Linked DNA regions of Homo sapiens: regions 2 and 3 are each linked to region 1. Evidence: fine-mapped expression QTL. A gene starts in region 1. Each other region holds a variant in brackets. All regions are shown on one strand. Distances are from middle to middle. Region 1 holds the start of NUDT6 (nudix hydrolase 6). Region 2 overlaps FGF2 (fibroblast growth factor 2). Region 3 overlaps AFG2A (AAA ATPase AFG2A).

Region 1 (5,229 bases):
TTTGCCTAATGCCTGGCTAAGCACATGGCAGAACCTGGTACTTAAACCCAGAATGTGCACCTCCAAATCGCACAGCTTTCTGCTTTGTCATGCTGACTGGGGTAGTGCTTTGATCACCTGTTTGGTCATTGATAAGTATCAGTGGGTACAACACCTGTGTCTACCCACACACTGGAAGATAAAACGATTGATTCTCCTATTAGTGACACTGTTGCAGTATAAGCGGGCTTGTCAGCAATTACTAGCAAGTAGGAGAGAAAATAATGTGAAGAGGTAAGAAGTCTGGGAATGAGGATGAGTAAACATTGAAATAACTAGCTCAATTATATTTACAGATATGCTTCTTGCCATATTGCTCAATAGGATAAAGATTATTTTGAGTTTCCAGTGTGAGAGATTTTTCCATAGTTGAATTTGCATGCTATGCCTTCAATTAGATTATAAAACCCTCAGAGGCCGTTTGAAAAACTGCTGCACCACTAAATCGACTTCTTCCAAAGTGAAGGCTCCTCCATCCAAGCTTTCTTATCATTGGGCTCAAGGTTGAAAGCCAGTAAAAAGTTTTCTTATTGAAGACTGAAACCACCCACCACCGTCCCTGGTTAATCATAAAAGAAGCGTTATTCTAAAAAACTCCAGTTCTCGCTGAGACAGCTGTTGACCCAATTTGTATACAAATGTGACACTCTGAACCTCTCTGGTTTAGTATTTGATAGCCCAACAGGGTGACTATATTCAATAAAGATTCAGGCTGGGTGCAGTGGCTCCTGCCTGTAATCCCAGCACTTTGAGGGGCCAAGGCGGGAGAATCAGTTGAGCCCGGGAGACTGAGACCAGCCTGGGCAACACAGTGAGACACCGTTTCTAGAAAAAATAGAAAAAAGCCAGATGCGCGCCTGTAGTCCTAGCTACCCAGGAGGCTGAGGTGGGAGGATTGCTTGAGCTCAGGGGTTGGAGGCTGCAGTGAACCCTGATCCTACCACTGCACTCTAGCCTGGGAGACAGAATGATACCCTCTCTCAAAAAAAAAAAAAAAAAAAAAAACAAACTGTACATTTAAAAATAACTAAGAGTAACTGGATTATGGTTGAATGCTTGTGGTGATGAGTATCTCATTTACCCTGATGTAATTATTACACATTTATACCTCTATCAAAATAGCTCATATACCCCATAAACATACACACCTACTATGGACCCACAAAAATTAAAAATAAAAAAGAAAAGCCTCTTTGGTCCACTCAGTCCACCACCCGTATTAGAATGTAAGAGTTTTTTTCCTTGGGAAAAGTGTCCGACAGAACCAAGGCTCGGTAAAGGATACTAATAATGTAATAATATAATATTAACAAACATCTACTGAGCTTTAAATACGTGGCAGGCACTGTGCTGTGCACTTTATGTGCATTATCCAAATTAACTCTCAGTAATTCCAGGAGTTCTTATCACCGGGGTCTGTGGAAGAGGAAATGGTGGTTTACGGCAATTTCCGAATGTCGCACAGTAGAAAGTGGACCAGCAACCAGGGTTGCAGATCCCAAAGTCCGGGATCTTCACCATTTCACCCAACCGCCTTAGAGACCTCCCAGCAAAAGGTCTAAGCACGAATGCTCCAGAAAACAGGTCCAGGTCACGCGTGCCTTCTCCCTTTCCCTCTGGGCTCGACAGTGGTGCACAGAGCGACTAGGGAGTGGGGGCCGCGGTTATTTCATTAGAAAAGCTCTGGAGCCCCGGGAGCCCTTCGTCCCAGGCGCACTTGCCCTGCAAGCCCTTCTGGAAGGCGGCAGCGTCCAGGCGGTCCAGCGCATCGAGCCGCGCCAGGCGCACCGAGATGCCCCCGAATCTGTCCAGCTCGCCCTGCAGATCGCACGCTCCAACTGGCGGATTCCGCACGTAACCCTGTGCGCCCGAGGCCCAGCGGTAACCCGCCGAAGGCCCGGGGCCGTAGGTTCGGGCAAGCATCGCGCGCCAGCGGCCCCAGCTCAGTGGCTGCCGCATCTCCACGCCGCTTAATTCGTCCGTTGCCCAAATGACCCCTCCGCGCTCCAGAGCGGAGATCGCGGCCGTACATTTTAGAAGAGTGCCATCAATACCCTCAGAGTTGAGCTGGGGTTACCACTCTGCAGAGCTATGCCAAGGAGACCGCGAAGTGGTCCACCAGCCCTTCTCAGCAATTTGCCCCGCTCCAGTTAAGCGGGGAAAACCTCCTCCCCCACCGCCACTCACTTATTTTGTTTGGTAGTTTAATTCAACAGACGTTGGTTTAGGGATGGGGAAGCCGGGAGGAGATGCAAAAACGTCCTGTTTTTCAGGAATTTACAATCTAAGTGGCAGTTCCGTTCCTGGAACCTATCTTCTTTCACAGATGCCGTTACAGCTGTTTCAAAGACTGCTGGTTTTGAAAACGCTCAGTCCCTCCCACCACGCTGTGCACTGCTGCGCTCCACTCAGGGGATTACGGCGCAGGGGCGGACCCTCGCTGACTTCTGCCCCGGAAGTTTTTCTCTCAGTTGAAGCGCGCACATTGAGTCGGCTTTTCTACTGCTTCGGCTAGGGTACCTTGTGACCATGTCTTCCAAGAAGAATAGAAAGCGGTTGAACCAAAGCGCGGAAAATGGTTCGTCCTTGCCCTCTGCTGCTTCCTCTTGTGCGGAGGCACGGGCTCCTTCTGCTGGATCAGACTTCGCGGCAACCTCCGGGACTCTGACGGTGACCAACTTATTAGAAAAGGGTAAAGAATTCCGGGTGGGAGACTAGAGGCCGAGGGGGCGCAACCTGAGGGGCGGGAGACTCAGTGATACTGACTTGGGGTGCAGAGACTTTTGAAAGTTGGGCGTGGCATGGGTCTGAGAGCGGCACAGAAGCGTGTAAGACTTCTGTATGTAAGAAGCATGCAAACGTAGCCGCGCCTGCACTGGAGAAGTTAGGCTGAAATGGTTTATCCGTGTCCAAGGTTTCTCTTTTGTAAATTATTTTGAATTTTTAAGTTGCACTTGAAACGCTTTGTCTCATTTAACATTAACGACACATTTAATTGCAAAATTGTTCATAACTAGCGAACATGGGATACTTATCCTAAAAAACTAAATAACCAATTCAGTAAAAATGTGGATCACTCTGCCTTTAGGAGTGATGATAGCATTTTCTTCCAGTACTACGCAGGTTATGATATTTAATAACTGCTAGTAACTGCACACTAGTGTTAGCAGTATATATAGCTCATCTAATTTCTACAGAAGCCGTGACCGATGGGTATAGTAATGACAGTTTTATAGAGGGAGGAAAGTTAACGTGATTCCATTCAGGCTACACAGGTGCTAAGTGGCAGAGCCGATATTTGAGTCCAGATGTGTTTGACTTAAAAGCCATTCCTAGATGACAGCTCCTTTGATTTGGGAGAACGTATTTATACTGAAAAGTCTTATAAATTGAATTAAAAATTGAAAATTTATATTTGATGTGTAATAGCTTTGAAAAATGGACCAGACTAGTGGCAAAAACTTTTATGTCTAATCAGACCTTAAAGACAATTTAGAGTTCACATGGTATTTTCACTCTGCCTTAGGTATCAGAGGACAACTTGTTCTGTCCTGAAGGTTCAACTTGTTTTTGAACTAGATCCTTCCCATTGACATGTAAACATGCTCATTTCTCTTCCATCTTAAATCAGAACAAAAGCTCCACATTTTCTTCCTGCAACCGTCTCTCTATCCATTGCCAAGCTTCTTAAATGGAGTGGTCTCTGCCGCCTCACCACTTACATACTCTCCCTAGCCTATTCCTCTTTGACTTCCACCCCATCATTCCATGGAAACTGTTCCTGGTGTGGTCTCCGAGCATCTCCGTGTTGATAAACCTTACGTGACCACAGCAACTTTTGGTATTGTTGACCATTCCCTCCTTCTCGAAACACTTAACTTCTTATGTGTTGTCAAACTTGCCTGGTTTTCTTCATCTTTGTTGATGTTTCATCATTTTTCTTTGCAGGCTCGTCCTCTTCCCTTGACCATTAAATGTTGAAGTTCGTCAATTCTTAGTCCAAAACCTTTTTTTTCCTCTCAATAAATCCTGTCTCCTTGGCAAGTTCATCCAGTGCCCAGAGTTTCCCATCTATAGTCTCTTCAGTGTCAGATTTATATTTGTAAATCTTTTGTTTTTGCGCCTTGATGTGGTTGCCTTTTAGCCAAATGCTTCTCAAGCTCTCTGTGGTGAAGACTTTAAAATTTATAATAGGTCACAGATCAGCACTTTTCTAAAATACAGTAAAAATGATTTTCTAGAAAAATAAGGAAAAATTTTTATTAAACAGATGTGAAATTACTCTGTAAATTTCAATAAAAGCTTCTATATACTTATTCTCCTGTTTTGTACTTGTCATGAAGCAGTAACAAATCGTTGTGGGTCATATTTTGAATAGCACTGTACAATAACTCTTCTCATGAGTGTCCCAAAGATACTTCAGGACTAACTTCATGAGCCCGTTATTTCCTCCAACAAAATAAACTTCAACTCTGTTCAGTTTTTCCCGCTGCAAAATTCAGAAACCTAAGAGTCATCCATGACTCTCCCCCCCATATCTCACATACCTAGTCCACCACTAAATCATGTTTATTACCTAAATATTTTACATATTCCTCTTCTGCATGCCATTCCCACTGTTTCTACCTTAATTTCAGACACCATCATCTCTCACCTGGACTGCTACAACAGCCTTTTGACTGATTTTCCAGCTTCCAATTTTGCCCCTTATTCCTTTTCCATTCTGCAGCCAGAATGATCTTGTAAGATGAAGATCTTGTCATGACATTGCTTTTCATCCCTTTCTGGGCTCCCACTGCTGTCAGAGTAATGACCAGCATCTTGATGCAGCCTATTGCACTATTGTCCTGGGTGGTCTTGACCTTCTTTACATGGCTTCCCTATGTCTCCACCACTCTGCCTATACTCTCCTGAGGATGCGCCATACCCCCTTCTGCCCAGGAACTTTGTACATGCTGTCCTCTTTGCTGAGAATTATCTTTTTCTTCTCCTCATTTAGTTAGTTCCTACTCTTCTTTCAGACCTGATCTTAACATCACTTCCTTTGAGAAACATTCTCTTATTTGAAATTAGGTCAGATCCCACATGGCTCTCCTGGCACTCTAAGTCATTTTTTCATTGTATTAATCTTAGTTTATTATTTTACAGCTATCCACTGATTGTTTAATAACTCACTCATCCTACAAGGCT
Region 2 (5,229 bases), 64 kb before region 1:
TGCGTTTTGTAGGTGGAAGCCAGGTATTTATAGATGCATGTCGTCAGTGTTGCCTGGTGTTGCTGTGCCAGGAGTCAGTGTGGGGTCCTGAAATCCAGATTACTGAGGTGTTAGTACTGTAATTATTCTTACCAGAAAATGCCCCAGCCAAAAGTGGATGGAATTTTCCCACCTGAATTACAATACCTCCACAAACCAGGCCAAGAAGTGTCCTCAGTGGCAGAGCATTTCTAGCCTTTCCGTGATGCTCAGATAGTCAGATAATGTCTGTAATCCCTAATAGCTACAGAACAGATGAGGGAAGGTGTCCTCTCTACCTGTCAACTTGTGACTATTTACTGATGAGTACTGGGACTTTGAACTCCCCTTTTCTCTCTATCTCTGAAGCTTATCTTTGCTGCTGTGCAGTTCTTTGCCCCTGTATTGCGCCTGGAGCTTCTGGAATGCCACAAGATGCTAAATAGTTCCTACCTTTTCCTTTTCTTACCATCAATCTGACTTAATTATCTGATGGTGTCACTATAGAAATAAAAGCCATTGGCATTCTTAAACAAGCAGCTGTGCTGTTAGAAGAATCAGGAGTCACCTGATATTTACAGCTATTTGGGCATTGTGTTACAGTTGCTTGTATTGGTAGCTCAGCCAGCCCAAACATATCTCTTTTAGAACATGAGGTAATAAAGCCAGTACATAAGATATTGGAGGAAATTGTAAGTTTGTATGGATTGAAATTGTTTCTAACAGCCTACCTTTGGCATAAATCAGCTGTACATCTTTAAATTTTTTAAATTACATAAGTTAAATGGTATGGCTTAGAAGTAAAATTTTGGCAAGAGATTTAGTATTTCAGACATTGTATGTTGCACTTATTTTTAATTAAATTGTTTTAATTATTTTGTCATCATCTACAATCTTAAGTTTCATAATAAAAACCATTTTTACTTTATGGCTATAAGAGTTGATACACAGAAAGATTTAATGGACTCGTAAAGCCATGTCCTGATTGGGTAGTAATGAAGGAATGCACAGATTTCTAAGCTAGCTCCCTTCCTTTCTTTCTTTAATTTTTCTTTCTTTCATATTATGCCCAATTTTAACCTTGTTTGCTAGCTGAGGAGTTGCTAAGAATTTTAATGAACTATCTGGGTGTCTAATGTTCTTATTTATAAACTTTAATTAGCCAGTTGAATTGTGAAGAGAATGGAATGTGTGGTTTTGGGCTTCTGGGATGATATGCAAAATAAAATAGTAAAAAAAGAAAGTTTACTGAGAGGGGCAATATGAAATGTGTTAGTCATATTTGTATCTGATCTTTGTAATTTATCTGATTATTACCATGGGTACTCCATATACATGTATGAAGATGTAAAGTTTTTCATTTTCAGCAAATGAGTTCCTTTTTTTTTTTCCTTTTACTTTGTTTTCTTTTTGGAGACAGAGTCTCGATCTGTCACCCAGGCTGGAGTGCAGTGGTCTGGTCTCGGCTCACTGCAACTTCCGCCTCCTGGGTTCAAGTGATTCTCCTGCCTCAGCCTCCTGAGTAGCTGGGACTACAGGTGCATGCCATCATGCCTGGCTAGTTTTTTGTATTTTAATAGAGATGGGGTTTCATCGTGTTGCCCAGGCTGGTCTTGAACTCCTGAGCTCAGGCAATCTGCCTGCCTTGTCCTCCCAAAGTGCTAGGGTTACAGACGTGAGCCACCGTGCCTGGCCAAATTAGTTCCTTTTGTTACCTAGCCTCCTTTGTCAGTTATCTATGCATTAAACGGTTTTCAGTGCCTGGTCTTCAGCATTGGATTGGATGATGGCTGATGGAAGAAAAAAAAACAGTGGTTATACCTTGGAATTTAGTTTTCAGTTACTGGTGAATTTTAGATCCAAGGAGACTACTAAACCTGGCTCAGTTATTTTTGGACACCAAAACATAATTTTATTGGAAAGCGAACACACTCTATCAACCAATTTTAAATAAAAAAGGTCTTTTGAATCAGCCAGAAGTTAAAATGTGAGCATTGTGTTCTGAGCTGAAGATGTCAGGTTATGTGAGTACTTGTTCTCTATAGACTAATATAGTGAGCCTTGAAATATAGTATTAGACAACTGCTTTCTGATTATCTTAGTACCCTAAATTGAGAGTTTCAGTTTGCTTGGGTTTCAAATTACTTAAATGAGAAATAATATTAACACTGGCCCAACTAATGAAAAATTATGCAATTGCCACTAAGCCCCATGAGGGTGGAGACTTTGTAGGTCTTTGTCACTGTTGTATTTCTAGATCCTAGAATAGTTTCCTGACACATAAGAGACACCAATATCAATTACTGAATGAATGAATAGGATAATAGATTGAGAAATTATATAAGGTCTTAGTCTTTTTTGCAGTATTTCCCTTGGGAAATAAAATAAAACTAAAAATTTATTTATTCTGTAGGTAAAGAACTGGGCTCGCTATGGTAAGACATTATATAAGCATAAATAATATACTTTAAAAAGATGCCTCAGCCACATTCATACTTGCCCTCTTCTAGATATTCTCATCTTTGATAAAATACAAGGATTCCTAAAAACATAATTTCCTGAATCTCAAAACAAAGCAGGTAGGGTGCAAAGCCAACATATTTGAGTGCTATATACTAAAAGTTTATATATGGGTGTGTACATATGTATA[T/TAC]ACACACACACACACACACACACAAAAGATCTATAACAACTGTTTCCCATCGTACAGGTGAGAAGGTAAGCTCAGTTACTTGGAGATGAAGGCTGATTTTGAATCCAGGTCTGACTCCAAAATTCATGCATTTGACACCATGTTATTTACTCTGAGTACTACAGTTTAACATCTGCGGTTTACTTCACAAACTTCTTGAAGGAGTTGTTCGCATTTACTGTTCCCAAATTGTTACTGAGGTTAATCTAGTGAATACTTTTCAGTTTTATATTACCTGTCATTTTTGGTACCATTTGATACTGAAGGTCTTCTTGAAGGTCCCACTTGAGATCCTATCTGCATTTGGTTTCTAACTCCTGGTTTCCTACTTCTGACCACTCTTGTGGGGTTTCATTAAATTTGTAAACTATTTGGTTGGGGTGGAAATGACATCTTACCTATATCGAGTTTTCCCATCTGTAAACATGCATAGCTCCCCTTTTAAGTCTTTTAAAAATGATTTTCAATAAAGTTTTAAAATTTTCTCCATAAAAGTCCTAGATACTATTTGTTATCATCATAAATATTTTTTTAATAACTAACAGTTCTAATAATGTGTTGTAGGTGTAAATAAACCGAATTTTTATATATTCTTGTATCAAGCAAGTTGCTGAATTATTTTCAATAGTTCATCTGTATGTTCTCCTAACTTTAAAAGAAACTTTTTATTTTGGAATAATTTTAGATCTACAGAAGATTTACAAAGACTTTACAAAGTTCCTCTATACCCTTCACCTAGATTTCCCTAAGGTTAACTTTTTTTTTTTTTTTTTTTTTTTTTGAGACAAGATCCTGCTCTGTTGCCTAGGCTGAAGAGCAGTGGCCCAATCATGGTTCACTGCAACCTCCACCCACCCAGGCTCCAGTGATTCTTGTGCCTCAGCCTCCCAAGTAGCTGGGATTACAGGCATATGCCACCACGCCTGGCTATTTTTTTGTATTTTTTGTAGAGACAGGTTCTTGCCATGTTGACCAGGCTGGTCTCGAATTCCTGGCTTCAAGCAATCCACCCACCTTGGCCTCCCGAAGTGCTAGGCTACAGGCGTGAGCCACTGCACCCAGCCTTACTTCTTACATATCTGTGGCACCTTTGTCAAAACTAAGAAATTGATACTGGTTACAACGCTGGTTCTAAAGTATAGATTTATTTGGATTTTGCCGCTTTTTCCACTAATGTCCTTTTTCTGTTCCGAGATCCAATCCAGAATATCATGGTGCATTTAGTCCCTTGATTTTTTAATGGAGAAAATGGTACTGTCTGCAAATAATAACTGTTAGATACCTTAGTTTCCAAGTATTGTGTGTGTGTAGGTATTAGGTGTGCATATACGTATCTTCCTGCACTAGCTCGTACTGACCACTCCATCCAGGCTCTTCTTGCTCTACATCCTATACTTCTCCCATAAATGTTGGTGCTTCCTTGGATTATGTCCTTTGCCCTTTAATCTGCGCTGGCTACACACTTTTGAGAAGATCGCAGCCACTTTACATCTCCCTGTAGGGATTAGGCACAGCCTGCACTCCCAAGGCAGCCACTGTTAGCTCTGATTATTACCTCTTTATTTCTAATAGATTCCTTTTTTGAACTCTGGATTCATATAGCTGACTGCTTTCTGGACATCTCTGTCTGAATTTTCCACAGGCATTGCAATTTCACTGTGTCTGAAGGGAACATATATCATTGTCTTCTCTTGCCAACTTTCCCCTCCTGCTGCTCCAACCACCTCCAAGTTATCCAAGACAGAAAAACCTGGGACCTATTTCTGAACTATTTGCTTTATTCTTTCCTCCCTTCTTCTCTCCTTCCTTTTTGCCCTCTTTTTACCTCCCTCCCTTCCTTCTCCTCATAGCCCCTGTGAATCCTGCTTCCTTCATGTCTCCCGTATTTGTTACCTTCTGTCCACTCCCACAGTTGGTGCTTCCTTGGATTCTGTCCTTTGTCCCCACTGTTTCATTAAAAGCTCTCATTCTTTCATGCTATTACACACTACCAAACTCCTTAACATAGTATTCAGAGCCTCTGGTATCTCCAGCCTCATTTAGTCCCCCATACCCCCTTCCACAACACACACATACATACCCCTACACTCCATGCTACCTAATTGCTGGAAGTTCCTTAGATGTGCTAGGCTTTCTCTCCCTTTCTCCTTTGGAAGTTATATAAGATGCTTTCTTTTTGTTCCCGTTCTTTCTTTTCCTTACTATTGCTAATTCTTTCAGTCTCCAATCATTTGTCACTGCTTCCAGGAAACCTCTCTGTTCAGGCTGGGTTAGATGTATTCTCTGAGTGCTCTCAAAGTAGCCTGTGTATATTTTTCTCATGGCACTTACAGTATTGAGCTTTAGTTATCCGTGTACCAGTCCTCATCGCCTCAACCATGCTGTATGTTCCTTAAGGCTAAAGACCAATGTTATATTTTCCTTTGGGCTTCCTATTGCTTAGCACAGTACCTGGCACATAGCTGTTACCCATAAATGTTAATTGAATTAATGAGTAAATGTATTCACCATTTATGGAAACA
Region 3 (5,229 bases), 54 kb after region 1:
ATCCGCTTGCCTTGGCCTCCCAAAGTGGTGGGATTACAGGCATGAGCCACCACACCTGGCCATAAAGTTGAAAAGTCTTAAGTTGAATCCTAAGTCAGGGACTGTCTTTATCACTGAATATTTTTTAATGCTTCTGCTCCATTTAACTAATGAGGATGTCGAGTAGTAAATCGACCCAATTTATCATCGTCTTAGTCCAGTTTCTGCTGCTATAACAAAATACCACATACTTGGTAATTTACAAAGAACAGAAATTTATTTCTCACAGTTCTGGAGGCTGGAAAGTCCAAGATCAAGGTGCTGGCAGGTTTGGGCTCAGTCTCTTTGCATCCAAGATGGTGCCTTGAATGCCATATTCTCTAAAGGAGAGGAACGTTGTGTCCTCACATAGCAGAAGGGTAAGAAAAAGGGCAAGCCTTTCTTATAGCTGTATTAATCCATTCATGAGGCTGGAGACACCTCTCATTAGGCCTCACCTCCCATCAGTGTGTCATTAGGGATTAAGTTTTAACATGAGTTTTGGAGGAGACAAAAACATTCATACCATAGCAAACATAAACATGTCAAGAATTGTAAAGGGTCTGAGATTTTACTCTACTTTTACTCTATTCTAACAAATTTTGTGAGTGGCTGCAGAAGAGTCAAAGGAAAGAATATTGCAGCAACATAATTAGCTAGAGTAGCAGCATTTGCACCAGTTCCTGAGCCTCAGTTTTCACGGAGTGATACAGAGGGCTACCTGACACCTGAGCCTTTATAGGCTTGCATCACAGTAGGGGAGCCTTGAATTGTAGAACCTGAATCTTTTATAATGGACAGTAAGCATGTCTATCCTTTGCTTTGGAGAGAGACACTTTCTTTTCCTGCATACCAACATCCTTTAAAAGATAGTCTTGAACAGAGGCAGTCAGTGATTTTACTCTCAAGCAGAAGTGCAAGAGATGTGAAGAACCATCTTTCAGCATTTTGGAAGGCAGATAAAGCAAGTGGGTATTTGTAAGATGTCCTAAAGAAGTGACTTGCTGTCTTTAGGAAGCAGGGGATCTATTTTTGGTGTATGTTTGTACTATTCACTGCTTTTTCTTGGTAGAGAAAGATACTCAACCCTCTGTTTTGTGGAGTTTTGTATCTTCTTTTTATTAATGCTTCTGTTTATATATAAAAGTTCAAATAAGTGAAAACAAAATGATGGAGTGGTATCATTTTAATTTAGTAAAAATGTATTGAGGTATAGTGTTTTGAACAAGAAAGGTTAAAAAATCATGGGAGCTAGCTGGTGTTCCAGGATAACTTTAGATATTCAGACTGGATTTCTGAGAGATCTCTGAGATTAAACTCCTTCAAAGTGGAATTTTATTAAACACTCTTAACACAAAGAGCATATAGTGACTTACTGTCTTCTAGACTAAAGGTCGTCACAGATCAAAGGGCTCTAAATCTCACAGCCTGATGGAGAGGACATTCACTCTTGTCAATGTTTAAATTTCAAGCAAATAGCAAAGACAAAGAACTTAGTATCTAACTTCTCAAGTCAGCATGGTATCTTTGAATTTATTTTGGATCTCTCTAAATTTGACTTTGTTGACTATCTTCCTGGCTGCTTTAGTACCTTTTATTCTACGTCATCCTAGTTTTTCTTTCCCTTTTAAAACATCGTTTCTTTTTATGCTATTCAATTGATGGGCTTTCCTAAGATTGAGCCTTCTACACTTATTCCTCCATCCCTGACCCCTCACTAGCCTCCCCTTTTAGATCTCTCCCTTGCTATAATATCAAATCTTACATGTATGCACATCACTCTGAAGTTTGCTTCGCTCTTGTATTTCAAAATCACATTTCCAACTGCCACCTGAATGTTTGCTTGCAGGTGTTTTCCCAGTACCTTAAAACTTTGTAATTCTAGTTTGAATGTATTTACCAAAAGGGCAGGGGCAAAAGCATGTTTTAATTTTAATATTTTACTCTTTTAAAAGAAGTTCCCCAAACAAATTATTTTGATAAATCTTTTTGGCTTTTTTTATGGATGTTGTTTTGTAAATTCTATTTTATATTTGTAAATAATGCTTTCTCATATTAAGTATTTGTCATATTTTCATTGCCAAAACTAAGTGCTTGGATTTTTACATTTATTCTTCACATTCTTCCACCTCTCTTCCAACCTCTCATCCCCTCCCCTACAAGGACAAAATGTTTTAAATGCTGTAATCTTGCATGGGGTTTGGGTTTTTTAATATTTTTATTGGTGATAATTCTGTCACAGGATCCTTAGGGTGTCACTTTTCCAGCCAGAAACCTCTGTGGCCGGTGGCACCTCTGCCCGAGTTATATCCTCGGGCCCACTGGGCTTGTTCTGCCCACTTGGTCCAGCAGGCTGTACTTGGCTTGTGCTATTGACCTGGATCCTACACCTGCCAAGGGTGAGCCAGGCGCAGAGCAGTGAAGGGG[G/A]TGTGAGTGAGCCCGAGGTCCGGCCACTGCACACAGCCAGGCATGCTGGCTGCAGTGGAGTGGACAGCCCCAGGTGCAGGCACAGGCACCGGCTCTGTGTGAGGATGTGGCTGGACCAGGCATACCACAAGTGTTTTCCACCGTGGGCACCAGGTAACGTGGTGGTACCTGGAAGCTTGGAGATGTTGGAAACAGCAGAGCCCCAAAGAGAGTGTCACAGCTCTGGTATCACAGCTCTGATCACAGCCCTTGCATCTGGGCTCCCCAGAGGGCCACAGCTCCTCTTCTTCTCATTGCCCAAAATGTGGTGACCAGTGGGCGTGTTTCAGTCCTGTTTGTGTTACAGCTCTTTCAGTCCTGCCATTTGGAAGGTCCTGAGTTCTTGTGCAGCCTTTAGGAAGAATGAGGTATGTGGACAGCTGGAGGGTGAGCAAGGCAGAGAGGAGCTTCATTGAGCAAGAGAACAGCTCTCAGGAGACCTGAAGTGGGTAGGTCCTTCTGCCATCAGGTCGTCCTGATGAGCGTCCAGCTCTCAGCAGAGAGGATACCTGGAGGGGGTAGCTGCTGTCCACAGGCAGGCCATCCTCACAAATGTCTAGCTTTCCGCAGAGAGGACACCTGGAGTGGGTAGCTCCTTTCTGCAGGTAGGTCATCCTGATGAGTGTCCTGCTGTCAGTGGAGAGGAGACCCAGAGTGGGTAGCTTCTTTCTGTAGGCAGGTTGTCCCAGTGCATGTCCAGCTCTCAGTGGAGAGGAGACCAGAATGGGTAGCTCCTATCTGGCATCCCAGCTAGTGTCCAGTTCTCAGCGGAGAGGAGACCCAGAGTGAGTAGCTCCTGTCCTCAAGCTGGTCAGCCTGATGAGTGTCCAGCTCTCAGCAGAGAGGAGACCTGGAGTGGGTGGCTCCTTTCTGCAGGCAGGTTGCCCCAACGAGTGTCTACTTCTCAGCGGAGAGGAGACCCGGAGTGGGTAGCTCCTTTCCATAGGCAGGGTGTCCCAGTGAATGTCCTGCTCTTAGTGGTGAGGAGACCCAGGGTGGGTAGCTCCTTCTCACAGCTGGTAGTCCTGACATCCCAGTGAGTCTGGCTGAGTCGGGTTTTTATGGGCTTCAGAAGGGAGGAAGTGCATGCTGATTGGTCCATGGGTGGCCATGGGCAGGCCCAGAAAAAGCACCATAAGTTCTTGGTCTCAGCTGCAGACTCTACCCAGCTCTGACAGCCTGCCCTCCATGCTTCAGGCTGTCCCTGGCTTAAAGGTGGGGCTTCACCAGGGACTCACTCCTTTCTGCCCAGGAGCCTCTCTGCCTCCTGCTGCCATCAATCATGTCGTCCATGGTGCTGGGGCTGTTCATGCTGAGGGGCGCTTGCAGGACTGCGCCAAGCCACCCTCAGCCTCCCTCACATACTCATTGGCACCCAAAGTCTGGAGGGGACCAAGGTGGAAGGGAGCTGGACTGTCAGTGCCACCTTGAGCACATGAACACCTAGGTGGGTCATGACAGTGGCTTGGCTCAGCCTTAACTTTGGTCTGAAATCAGAGCAGGCAAAAAGTTTTTCTGGGACTGGGGAGAGGCCAGGCAGTAGAAGCAGGCACTTCGGAGCCTGTTGGGGCAGGGGGTGCTTCCTGGGTTCTCGAGAGTGGAGGGATACCTGGGTCCACAGCCATGGCTGGGCAGCTGCAGCTGTGCCTGGGTGAGTGGGGCTCACACCCCACCAACTTGGAAAAGAGCAGGGCTCCTGCCTGTTCCCAGCTCCCACTGGCTTCGTGGAGTATGCAGCCCTGGCCACGCCTCCCCCACTGCAGCCAGTGTCTTCACTGTTGCCACTCCAGATGGGCCACCGGAGCCATCAATTCAGTCTGTATTTATGAAGGAAAAGACAAATCTTGTGTTACTTTCCTCTCTTTATAGGTCTCTGTGCCTTGCGGAGAATCCTGAAAAAACAGCCTAACCTCCCTGATGTCAAGGTGGCTGGACTGGTGAAGATTACTCTGAAGGATTTCTTGCAGGCAATGAATGATATCAGACCCAGTGCCATGAGGGAAATAGCAATTGATGTCCCAAATGTAAGTCATTTATGTCCCACACTAGCTACACTGTTTGAATTAAACTCTGAAAAAAATTTAGAGTTCAGGGAGACTGACTTCCTAGGCTAAACTTTAAAAAAATATTTTTCTTAATTGAAAGTTTTATTGAGATAGCTGTAAATTCAGTGCAGTTATACGAAGTAATGTAGGGAGATTCTGTGTATCCTATACCCAGTTTCCTCCAGTGGCAACATTTTGCAAAACTGAAGTACAGGCTGGGTGCAGTGGCTCATGGCTGCAATCCCAGCACTTTGGGAGGCTGAGGTGGGCGGATCACTTGAGCCCAGGAGTTTGAGACCAGCCTGGTTAACATGGTAAAACCCCATCTCTACAAAAAGTACAAATTAGTTGAGTGTGGTGGTGTACACCTGTAGTCCCAGCTACAGCTGAGGTGGGAGGATCATCTGAGCCCTGGGGAATGTTGAGGCTGCAGTGAGCCATGGTTATGCCACTGCACTTCAGCCTGGGTGACAGAGCGAGACCCTGTCTCAAAAACAAAAAACAAAACACCCAAAAAACTATATTACAATACTAAAACCAGGATACCCCTATTGATACAATCCATTGATCTTACTCATATTTTTTCAGTTTTACTTGTGTGTATGTGTTTATTTAGTTTTATACAATTTTATCTCATGAAAAGGTTTGCATATTCATCACAGATACTAAGTAATTCCATCACCACAAAGATCCCTCATGT

Evidence for each region. PIP is the estimated chance that this variant, and not a neighbour inherited with it, causes the effect. A credible set is the group of variants that fine-mapping cannot tell apart.
Region 2: its variant is the best candidate, but not a certain one, in a credible set for the expression of NUDT6 in regulatory T cells (Bossini-Castillo 2019, PIP 0.73).
Region 3: its variant is the best candidate, but not a certain one, in a credible set for the expression of NUDT6 in whole blood (INTERVAL, PIP 0.54).

Annotation. Positions count from the first base shown.
Region 1 is chr4:122,920,575-122,925,803 of GRCh38, forward strand. It overlaps NUDT6 (nudix hydrolase 6), which reads right to left and starts at 2,023. Exons shown (of 5, transcript NM_007083.5): 1 at 1,761-2,023. The coding sequence starts at 1,998. AFG2A (AAA ATPase AFG2A) reads left to right here and starts at 2,504. Exons shown (of 16, transcript NM_145207.3): 1 at 2,504-2,731. The coding sequence starts at 2,569. RefSeq lists enhancers at 2,167-2,703, 2,496-2,865.
Region 2 is chr4:122,856,985-122,862,213 of GRCh38, forward strand. The region is part of intron 1 of FGF2 (fibroblast growth factor 2); the gene reads left to right. Among named protein-coding and RNA genes, the nearest start is that of FGF2, 33 kb to the left of the region's middle. The variant T/TAC (reference allele first, on the strand shown) is at 2,669.
Region 3 is chr4:122,974,879-122,980,107 of GRCh38, forward strand. AFG2A (AAA ATPase AFG2A) reads left to right here. Exons shown (of 16, transcript NM_145207.3): 10 at 4,354-4,508. Among named protein-coding and RNA genes, the nearest start is that of AFG2A, 54 kb to the left of the region's middle. The variant G/A (reference allele first, on the strand shown) is at 2,446.